Homo sapiens: one gene and its partners. The protein of the gene in region 2 binds, or shares a complex with, the protein of the main gene of each other region. Each region holds a gene or a part of one and is shown on either strand. Other genes may lie near its edges.

Region 1 (7,026 bases), on a different chromosome or scaffold from region 2:
TGTAACTTATCACTATCAAACAATCTTTGACATTCCTTTAAGGGAAAACCATTACATTATAGTTTCTTTTTGTCCATTTTTAAGCAGGGGGTATTTATATTATCAATTAGCATTATTTGAGCATTTGGCAGCACAACCCACATTTATTTCCTCATGGAAGAGACAAGTTAGAAGTTTTCCTTGTTGAAAATGAAATGCACTCCCCGAGGGCCAGACTCAGAGTTGGAGATGCTTTGTTTACTCAGGGTTTCAGCCAAGGCTTCAGGTCCACAGAGGAAAACTCCTATTCTGGTACTTTTGGGAAAGAAAAAAAAAGACAATTTCAAGCTTTGGGATGAGATGTCTACAAAGCAGGTAGGTGAATTTCCCGTTAATTTGAGGCCCCAGGGCAGAGTCCCCTCTGCTCCTTTTTCTTTTCCACAAATAGCAAAGGGATCATATTGCTCAGAGGGAGTGTGGTTCAGCCTGTTTGTGTGAGCATCTGGATAGTTCAAAAGGTAGTTGACTTCCCTGGCAAAAGTAAAATCCAACCAAGGTTTTTGGAAACTTCTATCACAGAGAAAATGGTGGTGAATTCATGAGTCCGTGGGCTACTTTCCTTCAGGGCTCTGTGCCCCCTGGCATCTTGAAATTAGGAACAAGCTAACTATGCCAACCACTCAGTGTGGCTTCATTTCTCTAAATTTTAGAGTCTGAAGCCCTGTTCAAAGTGTGGTTTCTGATCAGTAGCCTTGGCGTCAGCTTTTTAAAAAATGCAGATTACCTGGCCCTACCTCAAATCTTCTAAATTGGTATCTGCATTTTAAAGAGATCCCCAGGCACTTTGTATGCTCCTTACAGTGCAAAAAGCAATAGTCTGAAGGGTACACGTATGGTGATCTCTTGAGTTTCTTAGGTGTTCTAGCAAGATAAGGGATCCCCCTCAAGGTTTTATAATGACTAAAGTTTTAGTGAGAGCAGAAAGCACCTTGAGACATCTGTCAACTTAAGATTTTAGACCCAGAAGCTTTTAGAACTGAAAGTGGGGACAGTGTCTTCTTAACAATATGTATAAATTATATTGAATCTTTAAAAGAAGTAGATACACTAATGAAATTTAGGTGACTAAAGAAAAGAACTAAGCTGTGGCCCTACTTGGGACAGGCAGGTTGAGAAAATCTGAGATGGGGACCTGGAAATACTTGTTTTTAATTAATCTCCAGGTAATTTGGTATAATTTAAAGATCCTTCTTAAAGTTGAAGATATCTGGAATCTTCTGTTGGGCATGAATTCAATCTTTATATAGTAATATACATATTTGAGTTTCTAAAATATATAAGTTTAGATATGTATAGGGGCTGCCGCTTTAGGCAGATGCAAGCCTCAAAAACATCTTGGTGACAGACTCCTTACTTAGGGTGTTGACTTGCAATTGTCTTGAATTCATTATCCCAGTTGGGCCGTCCATACAAAGTCTTTTGTTTCAGGCCTGTGATCACATCTTTCTCCTCATCATGGTGCACAGCAAAGTGATTGGCCTACAGGAAAGGACATGAATTCAGAAAAAAAAGAGACATTCTGTAAAAGCACATACAATGTATTTACATCCTTCACAAGCTATTCTAACCAAGGCACCCTGCTGGATGCTGAAAGGTAAACAAAGATAAATAAACTGGATCTCTCTCAAGCAATTTACAGTCTAGAAAGGGAGACTTCGAAGTATAAATATAAATAATCCCATATGTCGAACAGGGTATGATGTGTGTCATGAAGGAGGCACAAGCGTCCTAATGAGAACAAAGAAGGAAGGTGAAGTGGAAGAATAGGGGAAGGGTTAGGGCCGCAGTATTTGAGTCAGGCATTGATGGATGAATAGTGTCTCACTGTTTTTCTCTCTGCTCTATGTTTGACTTTTTCTCTCCACCCTAATATACTTCCACTCCTTTGGGAGAATTACTAAGAGATGTAACAATTTTAGACTAAAATGCAGCAATACTTTGGTAGCATAAGACATCAAATCAAGCCTAAAGCTAGTGTGTGTGTATGTGTGTGTGTGCACGCACATATGTGTATATAGTCACATACTGTTTTTCTGCTACCATTCTAGGAGGCTTCAGTTTGAGCAACAGGTATTTTTCATAAAAGTGGTTAATTAAATTTATTTTTAAAAAGCAAATCAGATTTGAAATTCACTAGATGGATGATGGTCATAGAGGAGGTTAAGAAAGGTGGGCACTCCAATTTAATAATTCTATAGATATCAGTTTTGCAAAGCAAAATAATTACTTTTTCAATACAAATAAATAACTGATTTAAAAAAGAAACCTGTGCATGGCTTTTAAAATAACAGAACAGTAAAGCAATTTATATACTATAGATTTTTTTCCTGAGTTTTATTTTTATCAAAGCATTTTTGTTTTGTTTTTAAATTGCAGAACTGGCATTTTGAAACCACTTTTTATGGAGCAACAATTCTTATCGTTATGTTTCCCTAATCTATATTTGCTACAAGATTCCTTTAAGACTTGGAGAATCTGTGATAAACAATATGTTGAAACCCAAATGGGAATTCAGTCTTCACAGTGACAGGGTGCACATGGAAGATTCCCAGGGTTGTGGAGTCAATGTCTATGTATGCCCAGTTGCTACAGTTTGAATGTATCCTCTCCAAAATTCAGATGTTGCCTATGTGATAGCATTAAGAAGTGGAGCCTTAAAAAGGTGATTAAGACATGAAGGATCATCCCTTATGAATGAGTTAAGGGCTTTGGAAAAGAGTCATCACACAGTATTTGACGAGCCTTCCCTTTTTCTTTCCACCATGTGAAAACACAGTATTTCTCCCACCCAGAAGATGCAGCCTTTGCTAGACAACCAAACCTGTTGGTGTCTTGATCTTGGACTTGCCAGCCTCCAGAACTTTGAGAAAATAAATTTCTGTTCTTTACAAACTACCCAGTCTTGGGTGTTTTGTTATAGCAGCACAAATGGACTAAGACACCAGCTGAGACACTGGACAGAAATATGCAGAGACTCTTGCCTTAGCTCCTCACTCATGGTGATAGCTTATGCTGCTTCCAGGCCAAGTCATTAACGTTTGCTTACTTACAAAGATGTTACCACTCCAGGAATCATTACCTTGTTTCAGGGTTTGTCAATTTCAGCACTGTTGATATTTGGGACTGTATAATTCTTTGTTGTGGGGGGCTGTCTTTTTAATTGTAGGATATTTACATTGCCAACTGTCTCTGGTGTGTGTCTTGGGGAGGAGCAGAGCAAAATTGTCCCAGTTGAGAACTATTGGCTACTTTATTATAGTGGTCTCCAAACATTTTTGAAAGAGCACTCTCATTGTACACACACATACACACACACATACATGCATATATATCACATTCATTAGATATATAGTAATTTATTTATAAATGATAATCATGAACTACTGCAAGATGCTGAAAGGACAGGCTCTGGCACATTCTGTCTCTGTCACTTACTTGTTGGGTGCTCTTAGGAAAATGACCTAACCTGGTCTGAGTTTTTTCATCTGTAAAGTGTGGAAAATAATAAGAGCTACTTCATAGGGTTGGTGACATGATAAAATTAGACAATCTATGTGACTAGATACATAAGAATAATACCTGGCAATATATATGCATAATAATTATAAATGTAGTGAGTATATTATAAAACATACAAAAGCATATAAATTAAATGATTTTATAAATACATATATACATAGTACATATAAATATATATGATACATATATAAATACATATTAAAATATATATATACAGAATCCTTTATATGCTTATGTATGTTATATAAACAGATGCTCCTCAGCTTACAATGGTGTTATATCCTGATAAAACCATCACTAAATTGAAAATACCATAAGTCTAAAATGGGTTTAATACATCTAACTTAATAAACATCATAGTTAGTTTAGTCTAGACTACCTTAAATGTGCTCAGAACACTTATATTAGCCTACAATTGCACAAAATCATCTAACATGAACCCTATTTATAATAAAAGGTTTAAGACCACATGTAATTTATTGAATACAGTACTGAAGTATGGCTTGTACTGAAGTATGGCTTCTACTGAATGCATATTGCTTTCACTTCATTGTAAAGTTGAAAAATCATAAGTTGAACCATTATTAAGTTGGGGAGTGTCTGTTTTACACACACACACACACACACACAGAGACAGAGAGAGAGAGACAGAGAGACAGAGAGAGAGACAGAGAGAAAGAGAAAGCTAAATTTTCCCCAAAATAACCCTGTGCATCATCTCAATCACCTGGTTTCAGAGTGCCTGGTGGGAGAATTGCTCTAATAATGTCAAAGTGATGGCTTTTATTCCCTCACAGGCTCCTTGGCTTTGATTCTAATCTGAGCAGTCTAAATATAATGTGGCGATACTAAATGAGAGTGAATGGACCGGATCACCAAATCCACTAAACATACTTAGAAAAAATAGTACACAAGACACACCAATAACCAAGGGGAAGTTCGTAAGCCCTGTACACTATGGGAAGGACCTGAGCCTTGGAGTCTTGTCCTTACCTGAGACTCATCCCAGCCAGTGAGGTAGATGTTGTAGCTGAGGAAGCCGGCATTGTTCCTTTCCTGCATCTGGCTCTCCAGCAGTTGCAGCAGATCTGCAAACCACTCAAAGGCATGTGTGTCCCGGCACAGCCAGTAGAAGTAGATCTGAAAATGGGGTGGATCATGAAGCAGATTATATTTGGCAGGCCCTATCAGCATTACCATGTGGAATTCCACTTTCTGTCACCTAAACTTTTTCTTGATGCTCAGAATGCCTAGAAACATAGATTTTCAGAAGGCTCTGGACATTTCACAGGGTAGTTTACATGAACCTGCTCTGGCCTTCACTCTAGCAGGGCAGTAAATAAGTAACTTGACCTCAGAAATACACAACTTAAGAAAAAACTATTAGCCCACCAAATTTCCCTCTGAGTCTGCTCTTACTCTCCCAGAATCTCTGGCTTCCTTCGAACCTCTTCTCAGAAAGCCTGATGGAATCTAGACTAGCAGGGATTGCCACAGAAATTCTTCCCTGGCTGCTACTGCCAGACATTCATGAGTTCCGAGGGGAAAAATAAGGTTCTATGCACATCTCCTCCACATGGAAAAGAGGTACAGGGAGAATGAAAAGTCAAGGTAGGCTTAATGTCCCTATTAGAGTTTATCTTTACAGTTATTAGAATGGCCTGAGGTTTATTTAGGATGCCCTTTATTACACAATAAAACCAAATTTATAGGTAACCAAAAAATCTCCTGTGAATTGATCCTGAGGAGATATTCATAAGTAGAGTTTCAGGTCTCCTCTCCTCCCTTTGCAAAAAAAGTATTGGGTGAGTGGAGGGGGTGGGGCGCGGCTGGAAATTGAATCAATCTCAGTATCTAACACAAGATGAAAGAAAAATTATTCAATATCCTCTCAATAGAACATGAAGAGATCATTTAAAGTCATCATTATAAAGCCTGTGAAGACATTGAAAAACACTTTCTATAATGTTTTTTTAAAAGCAGGACATGAAATTATACATACTTAATATTTACAACCTTCTAAAAATATGTAAACATGGAAAATATTAGAAGAGAATATACAAAAATTACAGCTATTAAGTTGGGGCTGTGAATACTTTCCCAACTTTCTTTCTTCTGAATTTCCAGCAACACTATACAAATACAATATATTCCCTTCACTAATAGGCCTACTTATCTAGAAGCACATTAGATTTAACAAATATTCTTTTGAAGAAAAGCCTGTCTCTCTGGAACCACCGGAAGCTTTTCTTCACTTCCCATGGTCTCTGCCAACCTTAGCCCTGAAAGCACTCTCAGGCCTCACATGGCAGAGTATGGTTACTGCTCTAAGGCCCTCCGATAAATGAAAGGACTTACCTTTTTGAGCTTCAGATTGGTGGCGTTATTGCAATATTTGTACCAGACTGACTTGAGAATGGATGCGAAGGGTGTGACCCCAATCCCTGCTCCCACTAACATCACCACCTCATAGCTGAACACATCTTCACTGGCAGTGCCAAAGGGCCCATCAACCGCTATCCTGAAGGGAAATGGGGAGGAGATAGTTACAGAGATGTCTTGCTCTTCAGAGTGAGATGGGGCACCCATAATTATTGGGGATGTGCAACATGTTAATTCAAATTGGAATAATGTATCTATTGGGTGCTTCCTTCTATGAAATAGCTTTCAAGTAACCAAACTTAGTGCCAACGTTGGGTTTGGAAGTAAAAAGAGAAATATTTGGCTAACCAAAAACATTCGGTAACTCAGAACAAGTTTTTTTTTTTTTTAATCTCCCCACCCCTCTTCACACACAACAACGCCCCCTCCACACACACCCTATGTCTTGCCAGGACATCCCACTCTTGAAATTCTTGCATACGGTGCACCCTGAAGTGAGGATTTGCTGCATCATTACATCTTGTAGATTTAATGTCTCCACTTTTCATTTATCTATTCATTGAGTTATTCAACAAACTCTCAAACCTTTCTTTAGCACCTACTAAGTGCCTTATAGCATGTTAGGCATGCAGGGAAAAGGAGGCAAAGGGGCTAATATATGGCATTTAACCTCAAATAAATTATGCCAATGAAAATTTAAGAATATTTTTGATACACTACAATTATATTTGTTAGGAAAGTTAATATAACTTGGCCTTGACCCTTACATATTTAAAGGAATTTGGGAGTATTTATTTCTAATATTTGATTCAAGGTTTTCATATTTCACATAAGATTTATGAAAATATGCATAAACACACTACACATATGAAACGGTGACCACAGAAATAGCTACCTATATTCTTAGAACCTGTGTGTTTTGTTGGAGACTTAGTAAAACATGGAGGAAGAGGAGCTATTTAGTGCCATTTTTCCTGAACTCATATACGTTGGTAATATGTACTTTTTACTCACTTAGGTAGTTTCCACGCATCTTGAAACTCCTGCTTATCACAGCCACAAGCATTGAACAGCCCCTCTGTCCAG
Region 2 (7,502 bases):
GAGCTTAAGAAAGAAGTCTCATGTACCAGAAAAAGTTAAAGAGCGATAGAACACTAAAATCTAAATGTAGGAATGAAAAAGTATTTCCTGAGTGCCCAGGAATAATGAGTTTTATTTTGATTTTACAGGCTTCTTCCTCAGAAAAAAAAAGGAGGGTCTTGGGAGTGTTCTTGGCTTCCAGCTGAATAAATACATGCAACAGTAGTTTGTAGTGTTAACCAATCATATGCAAATCTTGCTTATTTGGAATTTTGGAATAATTTTGAAAATATCGAGATGAAACTGAGTTACCCAACCAATGCCTCAACAAATTTTATTTAACAAGTAATGTTTATTGAACACCTGCTATATGCCAAGCCCTGTACTAGGTACCGAGAATCCAGTGGTGTGTGTGTCAGAACATTTTAAACCATAACTAATAGAAAACTTGATATGAATGACTTAAACAATAAACAAACTTATTATCTAACCAAACAAGAAATTCCAAGGTAGATCAGTTTCAGACTTGTAGAAAACGTTATTTTTATCTTTTAAGAGATGGAGTCTTGCTCAGTCACCTAGGCTGGAATGCAGTGGCGTGATCATCACTCACTGCAGCCTTTGAAGTCCTGAGCTCAAATGATCCTCCCACCTTAGCCTCCTGAGAAGCTGGGGCTACAGGCATGTGCCACCATGCCTGGCTAATTTTTAGTGTTTTTCTGTAGAGATGGGGTCTGGCTTCATTGCCCAGGCTGGTCTCTAACTCCTGACCTCAAGGGATCTTCCCACCTAAGTGTTGGGATTACAGATGTGAGCCATTGTGCCCAGCCAGATTTGCAGAAAACAGATAATGCAACACATCTCATCAGCATAACTAAGCATCTGAGCTCTTTGTAATTTTCCATTCTCTTTTCTTTCAGACAATGGCTTGTTCTTAGTTGTCTCCCCTCATGATTATAAGACAGCTGCCATATTCCAGACACATCTCACAATGCTGTCTAGTAGAGAAACAAGTGCTGTTTCTTCTCATGTGTTTTATTTTTTATCACTGGGGAAGAAATCTTTCCCAGAAATTCTTAGCAGACTTTCCCTCCTGAAGCGCATGGCTTCAGGAAACTGGAGGCTTGAACAGAACTGGGGTTCTACCAAAAGGAGGAAGGCGAATGGACAGTGGCTGAACAGACCGTCTACTAACAGCACCAAGTAATGATTAAATAGACTGCCCCTGCATTGAGGGACAGAAACAATGTCACAGATGACATACAGTTACAAACTGTAACAAATACATGATCAGAGAGAACCGTGCACATAGCAAGGTCATGGATCTAGAAAGGCCACTCATTGAGGAAGTGAAAGATGAGTAGGAACTAGCCAGGCAGGCTTGGGGGAAGAGTGTTACATGGGCGGAGGAAGAGGCTGGCTCATATGAAACCATGAAAGGAGGCCTGTGTAGCTGGAGTTCTTGGGAGAGGAGGAGGGGAAATGACCTGGAATGAGCACAGGGCAGCAGGCAGGGGGCTTCCTGCAGCATGGGAAGGAGTTCGGGTTATATCCTGAGAGCAGTGCAAAGCCATGGAAGGTTTAAAAACAGGGGCCATGAAGTGATCTGACTTGTGTTTTTAAAAGCTCAATCTGGATGGAGAGGCAAAGAAATGTTAAAAGACTATCATGTTCACCTGGGAGTTGATAGTGGCTTGGCCTGAGTGGTGACAGGAGAAGGGGAGGGAAAGTGGATGAAATGGAGCATGAATGGCTTTGCTAGTGCCCTGGGGGATACAAACATGGGTTAGCCCAGGACTTCCTCCTGAGGCACACTATTTGAGGTGCTAAGACTTGCATGCACATACATTGGTGAAGAGTGATTAAGGGCCACATGGGAGGTGCGGAGAAGGAGATGCAGGAGTTCAGAAGGCGAGATCATGGGTTTGAGCGCTTTCAGGCAGGACTGATTTCAGGGCAGTGTGTTAAGGAGAGTGCTATTTTAGCAGGCCTTCGAAGGCTATGCAAGGTGGGTTTGAAGGTGCAGACATGGGAGAGGGCAGCCTAGAAAGAGGAACTAGCACGAGTCGCACAGATGCAGGAATGAAGGCATAGCGGGAGAAGAGTAAGCAGCAGAGTTTGTATGGGATTGTGAAGGAAAGTTCTGGGGATAAGGCTAGAAAAGTCTTGGCAGTCAGATTAAGGAGAGTTCTGAGTGTCAGGGTGGGATAATAGGAGGGCAAAAACATTTTTTAAAAATGAAGTCTAATTTAGCTACAAATCCATTTGGTTTTCTCAGGAATAATTAATGTGCTATTCAAGTCCTGATTATTTATTCACTAGATGGAATAGCAATACCTCTTTCTGCCATCACTGCTACCTGCAGGTCATTTACCAATGATTTCTAATTTCTTTTAGAATGTATCCCTTCATCATGTATTGAGTATCTGTGCTAGAGATCCTAGAATGAAAAGGCATGGTCCCAACTTCCAAGGAGCCCATGAATTGAGCAGATAAAGAGATAAATTGCAGTAAGTATGATGCAAGTTTTTGGGTAAAGGTGGTACAAAGGAGAGGAAAATTCTCCTACTACCCAGAGTTCAGGGCTAGATTTAGCACAGTTGGTGACATTTAAACTGGGCTTTGAAAGATGAGTAGGAGTTTGCCAGGCAAAGAAGAGAGCTGGGAAGGCCTTGTAAACACAGGAAAACAATCTGGACAAAGACACACATGTCTTCTTAATTCTCACACCTTCAATCCTACAAGCACTGTGGAGTATACATTTTTAAGTTTTATTTTCAGGCTTTTAGGGGAAGCTTGGTGATAATGAGTGAATTCTTTCAGTTGCTACAAAACAAGAGTTTGCATCTAAGTATTTGACCCCCATAAACATGCATTTTACCTAAAAAGAAGCCTGGATTTTAGCAAGCCAAATTGGCTATACCCTTTACCCCCAGTTATTCCTCTGGGAGGTTTTACTGATTTTTACTTTTCTGGAAAAGCAAGGAAAGAACTCTTAAATCTGTTTTTTCAGAGACTAGTAAATCCATTAGTCATCAGTGCAGGACTTTCATCTCTTCAATTTTTCACTGGAAGATGGGAGAAGTCATAATTCACTGTCATGTGGCTCCCAATTTTGACATTTGCAGGAAATTGGTCCCCTCTGAACTTCATGAATGTTCATAAAAGTTATTTCGGCTGGGCACGGTGGCTCACTCCTGTAATCCCAGCACTTTGAGGGGAGGCCGAGGAGGCCGAATCACCTGAGGTCAGGAGTTCGAGACCATCAGCCTGGCCAACATGGTGAAACCCCATCTCTACTAAAAATACAAAAATTAGCAGGGCGTGGTGGCAGGCTTCTGTAATCCCAGCTACTCAGGAGGCTGAGGCAGGAGAATTGCTTGAACCCAGGAGGCAGAGGTTGCAATGAGCTGAGATCGTGTCACTGCATTCCAGCCTGGGCAACAAGAGTGAAACTCCGTCTCAAAAAAAAAAAAAAAAAAGTTATTTCAGGCCCAGATCAGATGGATCTCCAAAGATTATCCTGTCTCAAAAATTTGTTAATGATAATTTCAGCTCAAGATAAACACTAACATATTAATACAGCCTATGGGATTACAAAAAAGTGAGCAAGGAATTCATTCAAGACTGGAAAGAATTATCCTCTCATCTGACACTCCCATTTAACAAGGGTGTGGAAATCAAGGCCCAGTGACACAGGATTTTTTCTCCATCACTTTGTAAGCCAGGAACCTCTGGCTGGTGACACCCTGCCCAGGCCTCAGTGGGCCACACTACCTGCTGCAGGAGATGGCCTGCCCACTCGGCCTGGGTGGGGAGTTTTATTGAGTGATGAAAACAGCTTTCAGTGGAGAGGGGATGCAGGGGTGGTTCCCCTACCCAAAGGCAGGAAAGTCCCCCCAGTGCGGGTGAGTCTGGGGCTTTTATGGGCTCAGAATAGGGGAGGGGCAGGACATAGGTAGTACTGGAAAAGGCAACATTCAATTGGTTAAAAGGCATTAGTCAGAAATAATTAATTGGGAAAGAGCAGACAAACAGGAACAGAAGTTCTCACTCTAGGTCACGGGTTTCATTTGGGACCAGTAGCCTAGTCTTTCAGCCTTCAGGCTGTTTTTGGCTTGAAGGTGGGGTTTCACCAGGGACCTGCCCCTATCTGCCTAGGCATTTGGCTGCCTCCTGTCATTATCACCAGGGAGGTGCCTCTACCTGCCAAGGTTACCCTGGCTCTAGAAGCAGAACTTTGGCCAGAAGCTGCCACAGAACAGGGGTGGGAGAGAGAAGAGGAGCTGGGTGACAGAGCAGAAGCATTTTGGGGAACTGATCCTTCAGGCAGCAGCTGATGTACTTCCTCTCTCCTCCACACTCCACCCCTACTCGCCCTCTCTCTCTCTGCTTCTTTCCTTTTCTCTCTCATGGTAGGGTTATGAGTCAGTTGCCAAAAGGTGGGGACATTTCCTGATGCATTTGCAACACTGAGAAGTTATCTTAAGGGAGGCTGGGCCCCATTCTACTCATCTGGCCCAGAAAGTGAACACCTTGGGGGCCACTAAGGCAGCCCTGCTAGGGGAGACGCTCCAACCTGTCTTCTCTCTGTCTCCTGGCAGCTCTCTTGGCCTCCTAGTTTCTACCTAATCATGTCCCTGGTGGAGGCCATCAGCCTCTGGAATGAAGGGGTGCTGGCAGCGGACAAGAAGGACTGGAAGGGAGCCCTGGATGCCTTCAGTGCCGTCCAGGACCCCCACTCCCGGATTTGCTTCAACATTGGCTGCATGTACACTATCCTGAAGAACATGACTGAAGCAGAGAAGGTGAGTGGAGGTGCCTCTTTCCGGGCCTCCTCTGTGCATTTGTTATTATGATTCTCAACCCCATTGCATTTCGGAAACCTAACCTCTGGGGAGATTGAAAAGAACAAAAGTTGCCCAAGCTCCACCCCTAGACAGCCTGATTTAACTGGTCTGGGAGGGGCCCCAGGCAGCCAGTTTTAAAAGCTCTCCAGGTGGAGAGCAGGTGAGGGGCAGCCAGGGTTGCCTCTTTCTCCATCTTCTAAATTAAAATCATTCTACAAGTGTCTTTAACACCTTTGTGAAGGCTGTCCTAGTCGTACTTTCTTCTACACAGAACTCCTTCTGGGCACAGAATCTCTATCTATCCCAGCGCTTTACACCTGATTATTGATTCTAAGGCACCTCTTTTGGCTTTCCAAGACTTTCATGTGTGTCGACTTTGCCTGCTCAAGAGATTTAAGGGAGGCACTTACAAAAAATAGCTTTTATCCCAAGTGACAATTCTGATCAATTATAAAGGAGACTCTTTTAAAGATGCTGAGGCTGGCAAGAGGAAATTGTACTGTGATTGACTAGTGATGTCTGCTGGGGGCATGGTGTGGGATGTCTCGCATCTTTTTCGTTATGTTTTCTCACTCAAATACCATAGTATGGAGTTAAGCATTCTCGATAATTATTTTTTTGATTGGTTGTGGTAAGGTGGAAAGGGTATGGAGTTTGGAAGGAGAAGATCTAGGATCGAATCCTAGCCTCTGTCTCTCTCTGGACTTTTAGTCTTAAGCAAGCTATGTAGCCTATGTAGACATCTGGCTTTCAGCTTCCTGAGTTTCTAAATATCATGAAAATTAAGTGAGATGCCAAACTATTAATGTCTCGTGGAACTTCACACCACTGTATAAGAGTTAGTTATTATTTTTACCGATTACTGCCAGTCTTTGCAAGGTGTGGCAGTGGTTGACTCCCCAGGTCCCTTAAAGAATCAGTCCCTTCCACACTCCAACAGTAGGTAAACAAGCCTCAGCCACACCCTCCTGACAGGAAGACAGAGAAGTGACTGAAATGTTCTCACATAGCTTGACAAGTCAATCTCAGGCTCTAAGGCAGAGCATGGCAGGACCCCCCACCTCTGGCTGGAGGAAGGACATGGCCCCACCTCCTCTCAGGGGCCTGCTGAGGGGCTGAGTGAACAGCACCACACATTCTGAGGGCTGATGGACACAAAGTGCACATTGTCCAGGAGAAGAGATTGGCAGCTAGTCTGGGCACAGCTATGCCAGCAGGGACTGTAGCCTCCTGCCTTGGCCTGGATATGGGATCCTTGGCAAGGTTGTGTGGGCCACCACTCACTTCTCAGCTCCCAGGCCTTCAGGCCCACATGTCTCTGTTTCTCCTGGCATTCCTCTGCTTCTAGCCTTCTCATTCCTTCTGCCTTTCTTTGTTTTCCTGCTTGAGCCCTTCCTACTAGCATTTATATGCATTCTTATTCATTATCATTTTAATTGTATACTATTCATGTATAAGTTTGTATAGTAAACAAATATAACAATTTATATAATATTTTAATTATTTTCATTTGCAATAAATTTTATTATTTATTTAAACTGAATGTTCAATACATTCATAGGAATACAAGAAATGCAACAAGGGTTAAAATTTCATTATTACATTAGATATCATTTTTTCTTTCTTTTTTTTTTTTTTTGAGATGGAGTCTCACTCTGTCACCCAGGCTGGAGTGCAGTGGTGCAATCTCGGCTCACTGCAACCTCTGCCTCCTGGGTTCAAGTGATTCTCCTGCCTCAGCCTCCCAAGTAGCTGGGATTACAGGCATGCACCACCAAGCCCGTCTAATGATGTTTCATTTTTCAAAGAAGCTTCTCCTATTTCCCTATCTTTTTTATCTTCCACAGAGCAATAAATAGTAATTACTACTCTCCTGGACAAGGTGCTCTGTTGTGTTGGATAGGAATTGTATCTTTAAGTTTGACATCATTATCACCTCCAAAAACTCTACCTTCACTTCATAGCACAGTCTCGCTGCATTGTTTCACAGTAAAATTGTACTCTACTCAAACTAGGAGAACTCAAAGAAATTAGAGCAAACAGCAGTTAAATTCATATGAATGAAAGACAGAAGACCAAAGATTTTAAAGTACTGATTTAGTAACATAGTGTCTACTGGCTCAAAGCTTCTATCTAATCATATTAAATCATATTATTAAAACAGCGATAATAGAAATGAAAGCTACACTAATGAAAAAGGAACTTGGGAATGAGGTCATTAAATATAACTAACTATATTTTAAATATAGATATGTATTTTTTATTAGTATCAGGTAAATGTCTAAATTATCTATTCTGAATTCTAGTCTCAGAGAAGGTCAGAGACAGTTACAAAGAAGGCGCTTCATATTGTCAAGTCCATTTTTAAAATGATGAGCTCCTTTGGGAAAATGCTTTAGTGTTTCTTTTCTTCTAAGATTTCTGTTGGTGATAATCCATTAGTGTCTGCACCCTTATAGTCCACTTTGTCTTTATTTGTATCATTGGATTTTTTTTTTTTTTTTTTTTTTTTTTTTTTGAGACAGGGTGCCTTACTTTGTTGCCCAGGCTGGAGTGCAGTGGTGCCGTCACAGCTCACGGCAGTCTCCACCTCCTGGGCTTGAGCGATTGACCTACCTCAGTCCCCCAAGTAGCTGGGACCACAGGCATGTGCCACCACATCTGACTAATTTT
Region 3 (7,026 bases), on a different chromosome or scaffold from region 2:
AGATCCAAAAGCATACAATAGATTCTAACATATCTTCGATGACAAATGCCACTGAAACACTCCACGCTACCTGGTCAAAAGCAGGCGTTAAGTTCAACGATGGTGAAGACAGAGGTCAGGGAGATCCTGAGGGGGGGCAACAACGTGCTCCTCCTCCCATGGCAGCACCCACCAGAATCTACAACAGCTGGCACAGCCGGAGATGTTCTGCACTGTCCCTTACCGCAAAGGCAGGCGGGAGCCACGGGCACTTTCAAGTGCTCCATCCGAGTTCTCAGACACAGCCTAGTTGAAGCCACAGCATACAGGAAAAGGACCCGTCTGTAAATGATGCCTGCCAAAGGGCTCTCCCAGAACATAGCCGGGCCTCAGGGTTTTAATGCTGCCAGAACATTCCAAGTCTCCTATGCAGAAATGTTCCTATCTTCCACCTAGTTCTGGGAGACTGGTTTGAATGTACAGACTTGCATTATCAAAATCAGCACTGTTGCTGACACTAAGACCTCCAATTCTGGGCTACTTTGTAGGTCTGGGGGAAGCCACCCCTTAAGGACAAGCGTTTTTGAGACGGAGTCTTGCTCTGTTGCCCAGGCTGGAGTGCAATGGTGAGATCTCAGCTCACTGCAACCTCTGCCTCCTGGGTTCAAGCGATTCTCCTGCCTTAGCCTCCCAAGTAGCTGGGACTACAGGCACACACCACCACGCCCAGCTAATTTTTTGTATTTTTAGTAGAGACCAGGTTTCACCATGTTGGCCAGGCTGGTCTCAAACTCTTGACCTCAGGTGCTCCACCCACCTTGGCTTCCCAACGTGCTGGGATTACAGGCATGAGCCACCACTTTCAGCCATGGACAAATTTTAGAAGTGACACTTCCAGTGTTTATCACAATGCTGTCAATTCATTTCTTTGTTCCAATAAAAACTGACAAACTCGCTCTTCCAACATAGAACCCTGGAACTCTTTTAAGAAAAGCGCTCACGCCTCTAATCCCAACACCTTGGGAGGCCGAGGCAGGTGGATCACGAGGTCAGGAGTTCAAGGCCAACCTGGCCAAGATGGTGAAACCCTGTGTCTACTAAAAATACAAAAAATTAGCCGGGCATGGTGGCAGGCACCTGTAATCCCAGCTACTCGGGAGGCTGAGGCAGAGAACTGCTTGAACCCGGGAGGTGGAGGTTGCAGTGAGGCGAGATTGTGACACTGCACTCCAGTCTGGGTGACAGAGCGAGACCCTGTCTCAAAATGAGAAAATTATTTTAATTTCATCTCACTCAAGCTTTTCTTTTTTTCTTTTTTTTCTTTTTTTTTTTTGAGACAGAGTCTCGCTCTGTCGCCCAGGCTGGAGTGCAGTGGCGCGATCTCGGCTCACTGCAAGCTCCACCTCCCGGGTTCACGCCATTCTCCTGCCTCAGCATCCCCAGTAGCTGGGACTACAGGTATCCGCCACTGCGCCCAGCTAAATTTTTTGTATTTTTAGTAGAGACGGGGTTTCTTTTCTTTTTTTTTTTTTTTTTTGTTTTTGAGAGGGAGTCTCGCTCTGTCGCCCAGGCTGGAGTGCAGTGGCACGATCTTGGCTCACTGCAAGCTCCGCCTCCCAGGTTCACACCATTCTCCCTGCCTCAGCCTCCCGAGTAGCTGGGACCACAGGTGCCCGCCACCACGCCCGGCTAATTTTTTGTATTTTTAGTAGAGACGAGGTTTCAACGTGTTAGCCAGGATGGTCTCGATCTCCTGACCTCGTGATCCGCCCACCTCGGCCTCCCAAAGTGCTGGGATTACAGGCGTGAGCCACCGTGCCAGGCCACTCAAGCTTTCCTGACTTAACATTCAAAGAGCACATTAGTTTCCACAGCTATCTGGGTTTCATCTATGGGCTACTGTTGAAGATTTGTCCTCCCAAGGACTTCATATGGTGCCAAATCTTTACCATGGGAGAGGATCATCGAGAACCAGTTACAAAAATGCAGCTTCCAAAGAGCCTCTGATCGTATCTGTGGCATGCTTTCGATTTTTAAGAGCCTCTTTTTTGATGGAGAAGAGACACACACGACAGGAGCGAGCAGTTCCACTTTCCACCCGGCGTTCGTGCTATGCCATCTGCCTGTTCCTTCCTTGTTCCTTCTTCGTCCCCAGCTAAATATAGCTTCCCAAAACCCTGTCTAGTGCTTCTGGTACTCACTTCCTAGCATCCCCTCCTCCCGGCCGTCGCTGTCCTGACGCTTCACATACAGAGGCTGTGCTGGCTGACCCTGGCTGGGAGGCTCTATTTCTTCCCCGTCCTCGTAACACTCAAGAGGACCTGAGAGGGCACCACCGGTGTCTCTCCAGGGTCTCTCAGTTTCCTTCCTCACAGGTCACTTGTGTGTTCTGGAGCCTCAGGCTGTCTCCGGTCACCGGCCTATGTTTCCAGTCAACCTGAGCACTGCTTTCCCCTTTCTGACTAACCCAGACTCCCGCGTGCCTGTTACACACGTGGTGCCTTCAACGCCTTTGTTACTCCTGCATCACACACCACTCCCTCCTCGGTGGTAAGTGTAGCCAGGGCTGCTCTTCCCACAGCCTCCTGCCCACTGGTGGAACCATCCACAACAGATGGGTCCACTTTCCATGGAGTAAGACAGGGCGGGCATCTGGACAGCTGAGATCTCACTACAAAAAAGTAGTGTTGTTTCTACTTCGTTTTATTCTCTTCCAAATGCTATCCACCTGGATTTTACTTTCAAGTTTGGAATTTTAAAACACACAGACATTCTGGCCAGGCGCAGTGGCTCACGCCTGTAATCCTGTAAAAGGGTCAGGCAGCCCTGACGTATGAGAACCAGCCTGGCACTCGCAGCTTCGCCCTGGTGGAGGTGTTACTATTGAATAGAATAATCTCGCAGAACACTAACATCAGAGAAGGTCACCTGTGTGACTGTGCTGAAATAGGACCAAAAGTAAGTAAACTTTAAAAAAAACAACTCATAATCGTTTCTAAGTAGTGACAAATCCAAGATCATCATACAAACCACAAAAATCACCAAATATCCCCTGCTCCCGGCCAGTAAGAGTGAGGGCCGAATTCCCACAGTCCCCAGGTGCGTGTTTCCCTCGCGGCGAAGAGTAACAACTCTAGTTCTGCGGAACCACATGTGTGTGCCTGGTGCTCTCTGGCTGCACTTGTAACAGCCAACCTCACAAAAGCTGAGGCCTTTTGAAACTCAAAACTGCCAAGCTGAACACCACAGTTTTTCTTTTTATCTACCATCACAGGAGTCTAGCCCACCACTTTAAAACCTCTAGCACTGGCCAGGCGTAGTGGCTCACGCCTGTAATCCCAGCACTTTGGGAGGCAGAGGCAGGCGGATCACCTGAGGTCAGGAGTTGGAGACCAGCCTGACCAAAGTGGAGAAACCCCCGTCTCTACTAAAAATACAAAATTTGTAATCCCAGCACTTGGGGAGGCCAAGGCGGGCGGATCACAAGCTCAGGAGATCAAGACCATCCTGGCTAACATGGTGAAACCCCGTCTCTACTAAAAATATAAAAAATTAGTCAGGTGTGGTGGCGGGCGCCTGTAGTCCCAGCTACTTGGGAGGCTGAGGCAGGAGAATGGCGTGAACCCAGGAGGTGAAGCTTGCAGTGAGCCAAGATCGCACCATTGCACTCCAGCCTGGGCGACAGAGCAAGACTCCGTCTCAAAAAAAATAAAATACAAAACAAAATTAGCCAGGCATGGTAGCACATGCCTGTAGTCCCAGCTACTTGAGAGACTAGGGCGGGAAAGTCACTTGAACCTGGGAAGCGGAGGTTGCAGTGAGCCAAGATCACACCATTGCACTCCAGCCTGGGCAACAAGAGCGAAACTCTGTCTCAAACAACAACAACAACAACAACAACTTTTAGCCTAGAGAGAAAATGAAACAACTGGCATGACGCACTGGGGTCCTGGCTGACCCCAACATGGAGGCTCAGCATCTCAGCGAACCCGCTGCACAGCCTGAGTCTCAGGACACACACAGGGCTCAGGACTCGCTGTGACACTGACAGGTCACTTAGGCTCCCACTCACACCACCAATGCTGGTACAAGCAGGCAAATAAATACAGGTGATCTACACAAGGGAAGATGCTGGACTTGAGCGTTACTCTGACAAGACTTGATTCTGTGCATAGCAACTGAAGATGAGTATGCAGAACTTAGCAAAGATTTTCAAGAGAAAATAATGTAAGGATTACGTAATTCGGGAAATAAAAACCTGAAGGGCAATTTCAACTAAGAATGGCGACTACCTGCTCACCATCTTTTGGAGAACGAAGAAGAAATGAATGGTCTGAACAGACTTAGCCCGACAGAGCTGCCCAATAGAGAGGATGCCAATGTTAAATGACCACAAGAAATGTAACATCTCTTTTTAGGACACCCTAGATAAGAAATCTTCCAACTGGTCCTTCAGGAGAGTGTCTAAGCAGTCTTGGATGAGCTACATCAACAGGTCTGCAGACCACAGAGCCAGCAATCAGGGACCACATTCCATGTAGTACAAAATTTAGAGGTTTCCCCTTTATCAACAAGAGACCCAGGTGCCAGCATGTTACTACCAGATCCAGTTCTTCTTAGGACAGTGTGGCTCAAAGGGATGAGACCTTCCAGACACTGGTATCTGAGCATCTGTGGCCTGCCCCTGAGTTGTCAAGATAATTTCCTTATCTCTGAAGGAGTCCAGACAGGAATGCTTCCACTGCTGGGTGGGTGCTCGCCCCTCTTGCTCCTTAAGCGCCCGGCTCACCCCCTTGCTAGCACAGGGTGTCTTACACAGTTTATGGGACTTTTCTGTGAACTACCTGAGGGCAAGAACCATGTCCCACTCCCTCCTTGCTCCTCAAATATTTTATAGGAAAGCAGTCCACAGTCTCACACAGAGGAAACATGAAGTTTAAGTTCTAGCCCTATGAGGACAACACCTACTTTGATACCAGGCGTCACACTCTACAGCTTTGTTCAAGCTGAGGAGAGTTCTCTTTCCTTATCTGTGTGTTCCTCAGAACACAAAGTGGGACTCCTGCCAAGTCACCCTTGACTTACTGTGAGGCCTTCCTTAGAGAGGCCTCACCCTGCCCGGTACCCCCTGAGTCACAGCAGGGTGGCTCTTGTTTCTCAGAATGACACCACACCCTTCCACATGTGTCCAGTGGGCTGAAGTCTCCTACTCTACCAGCCAGTATGTTTTTAAATCCATTTACAATCTGAATTATTAAACATCCACTGGGTATAGAAGAGTTTCCTAAGATACTGAAGAATTTGAATTGTCTGGGGATTATAGACTGATTTTTAATACAGCAGACTTAACCACTAAGTTATTTCACCCATATTACCCCCTACAACGAAGTACTGGTTGAATCAATCACAGGCTGCCTCATCATCAATCAGGGCTCAAAGCCAGCCTTTCTCTAGGATGTCTTCCTGACCTCAACCCAACCCCAACCCCAATCCCTCCGGCCAACCCAGGTGTGCTGAGCACCACACAACTTCCACTCATTTGGGCACAACGTGGAAAGCAGCACTCTTTAGGCCGACCCACCCGCACACTGAGGAACAGGAGAATTCTGACAGCGGCTGGCCCCACAGTGTGTGCTATGTGCCCAGGACTGTTATGCGTGCGTGACACGTACTCATCTCACCCTACAAGGAAACAGGCAAAGACTGGAGAGAGGATGAAGCCTGCCTGAAGTCACAGAGCTAGGACATGCACACAGGTTATCAACCCAAGGAATCTCAAGCATATTTAACTTTTGCTTCCAAAGATACTTTTAAAAATGAAGAACAAACATGTAACAAGATAAGCAAATGATACACAAGTAAAACCGCTGCTTAAAGAAAAGTAACTTTTAATGACAACAATGTCTTCTAAGTACCCATTTTCACCAGCTACTGCTCTAATTAGCTTTGGTAAATAAATCACTTAGTTGTCTGATACAGAAGCAAAAGTAAACTTTTTTTTCTGATTAGACACAGTGGATACATTTTACAAAACCAAAACTTCAATCTACATTGAATAAATTTAGGTTCTATTGTATGGTTCACAAAATCCATACAAATTATGTATTTTGTGGGAAAAAATGTATTAAACCTGTGAGATTAGTTACTAACTTGGTTTAAAGAAACCTGAATCTTAACTGCCTAATTTGATTCTGTGGTACAAAAATGTCACACAGCAAACCTGCCTTCAAACTAATTGGTGTTAAAAACTGGTTTGCAAAAACAAAAAGTAGCTCTTTCATACGGTTATTCTAAAGCTAAATGGAAGACTGTAAAATGCCCAACAATGGAACAGCTGGTAACGCTCAAAACACAAAACCCCTGGGCTTGCATCTAGGGGGATGTTTACATGGAACCAATCCCACCCTGTTTGCTATTTACTCAATACCCAAATGATGGCAATATAAGCAAGTCCATAGGTAACATGCACTAATTAAGCGCTCGAGAATTATATACTCTAAAAGACACATTAAAAGTCAGCTGCAATCCTTACTGTTTGCGGATAGGATAGGGGGCGTAATCTGTCATAATCTTCTTGTCCAGCTGTATCCCATAAGCCCAGATTCACCGGTTTTCCATCTACCATAACATTGGCAGAATAATTGTCAAAGCTGTAGAATGGAATGAAAATGGTTAGTCACAGGTGTAGAAGCTAAGTCACTGTCCCAGCCATCCTAGAGAAGGTGTGCCAAGAAAAAGGCTGGGGACGGGCCTGGAGGCTGCCACACCAGCAAATGTCCCTGCAGGCACAAGGAGGAAGGCGGCACGGGCAAAACTTGCGGGAAACAAACCAAACCCAACCCAAAACTTAAGAGAAATGAAAGAAACAAACAACAAGCTATTTAAGTGAAACAAATCACCGTCAGAAATAAAAACATTTTACTTTAAACAAAGTTTAAGACTTTTATCCCCAGAAGAAATAAGGGTACAATTAGCCCCGCTTTCAAATCCTACTTGTTGGGTTTTTCATGTACTTATGTTGCTCATTTTCAGCAAGAGAGCTAGCTG

The links. Proteins that work in one complex are often made in the same cells at the same time.
Region 1: NCF2 (region 2) and CYBB share a complex: the UniProt entries of both Homo sapiens proteins name them as parts of the phagocyte NADPH oxidase complex.
Region 3: NCF2 (region 2) and RAC1 share a complex: the UniProt entries of both Homo sapiens proteins name them as parts of the phagocyte NADPH oxidase complex.

What each region holds. Positions count from the first base shown.
Region 1 is NC_000023.11:37,804,059-37,811,084, reverse strand, and holds part of CYBB (NADPH oxidase 2), read right to left. Parts: coding exon 6,955-7,026; intron 6,080-6,954; coding exon 5,917-6,079; intron 4,699-5,916; coding exon 4,552-4,698; intron 1,519-4,551; coding exon 1,394-1,518; intron 295-1,393; coding exon 168-294; 3' UTR 1-167. UniProt on the Homo sapiens protein: Catalytic subunit of the phagocyte NADPH oxidase complex that mediates the transfer of electrons from cytosolic NADPH to O2 to produce the superoxide anion (O2(-)).
Region 2 is NC_000001.11:183,587,441-183,594,942, reverse strand, and holds the start of NCF2 (neutrophil cytosol factor 2), read left to right. Parts: upstream 1-4,483; 5' UTR 4,484-4,613; coding exon 4,614-4,787; intron 4,788-7,502. UniProt on the Homo sapiens protein: Subunit of the phagocyte NADPH oxidase complex that mediates the transfer of electrons from cytosolic NADPH to O2 to produce the superoxide anion (O2(-)).
Region 3 is NC_000007.14:6,391,527-6,398,552, reverse strand, and holds part of RAC1 (ras-related C3 botulinum toxin substrate 1), read right to left. Parts: intron 6,630-7,026; coding exon 6,512-6,629; intron 1-6,511. UniProt on the Homo sapiens protein: Plasma membrane-associated small GTPase which cycles between active GTP-bound and inactive GDP-bound states.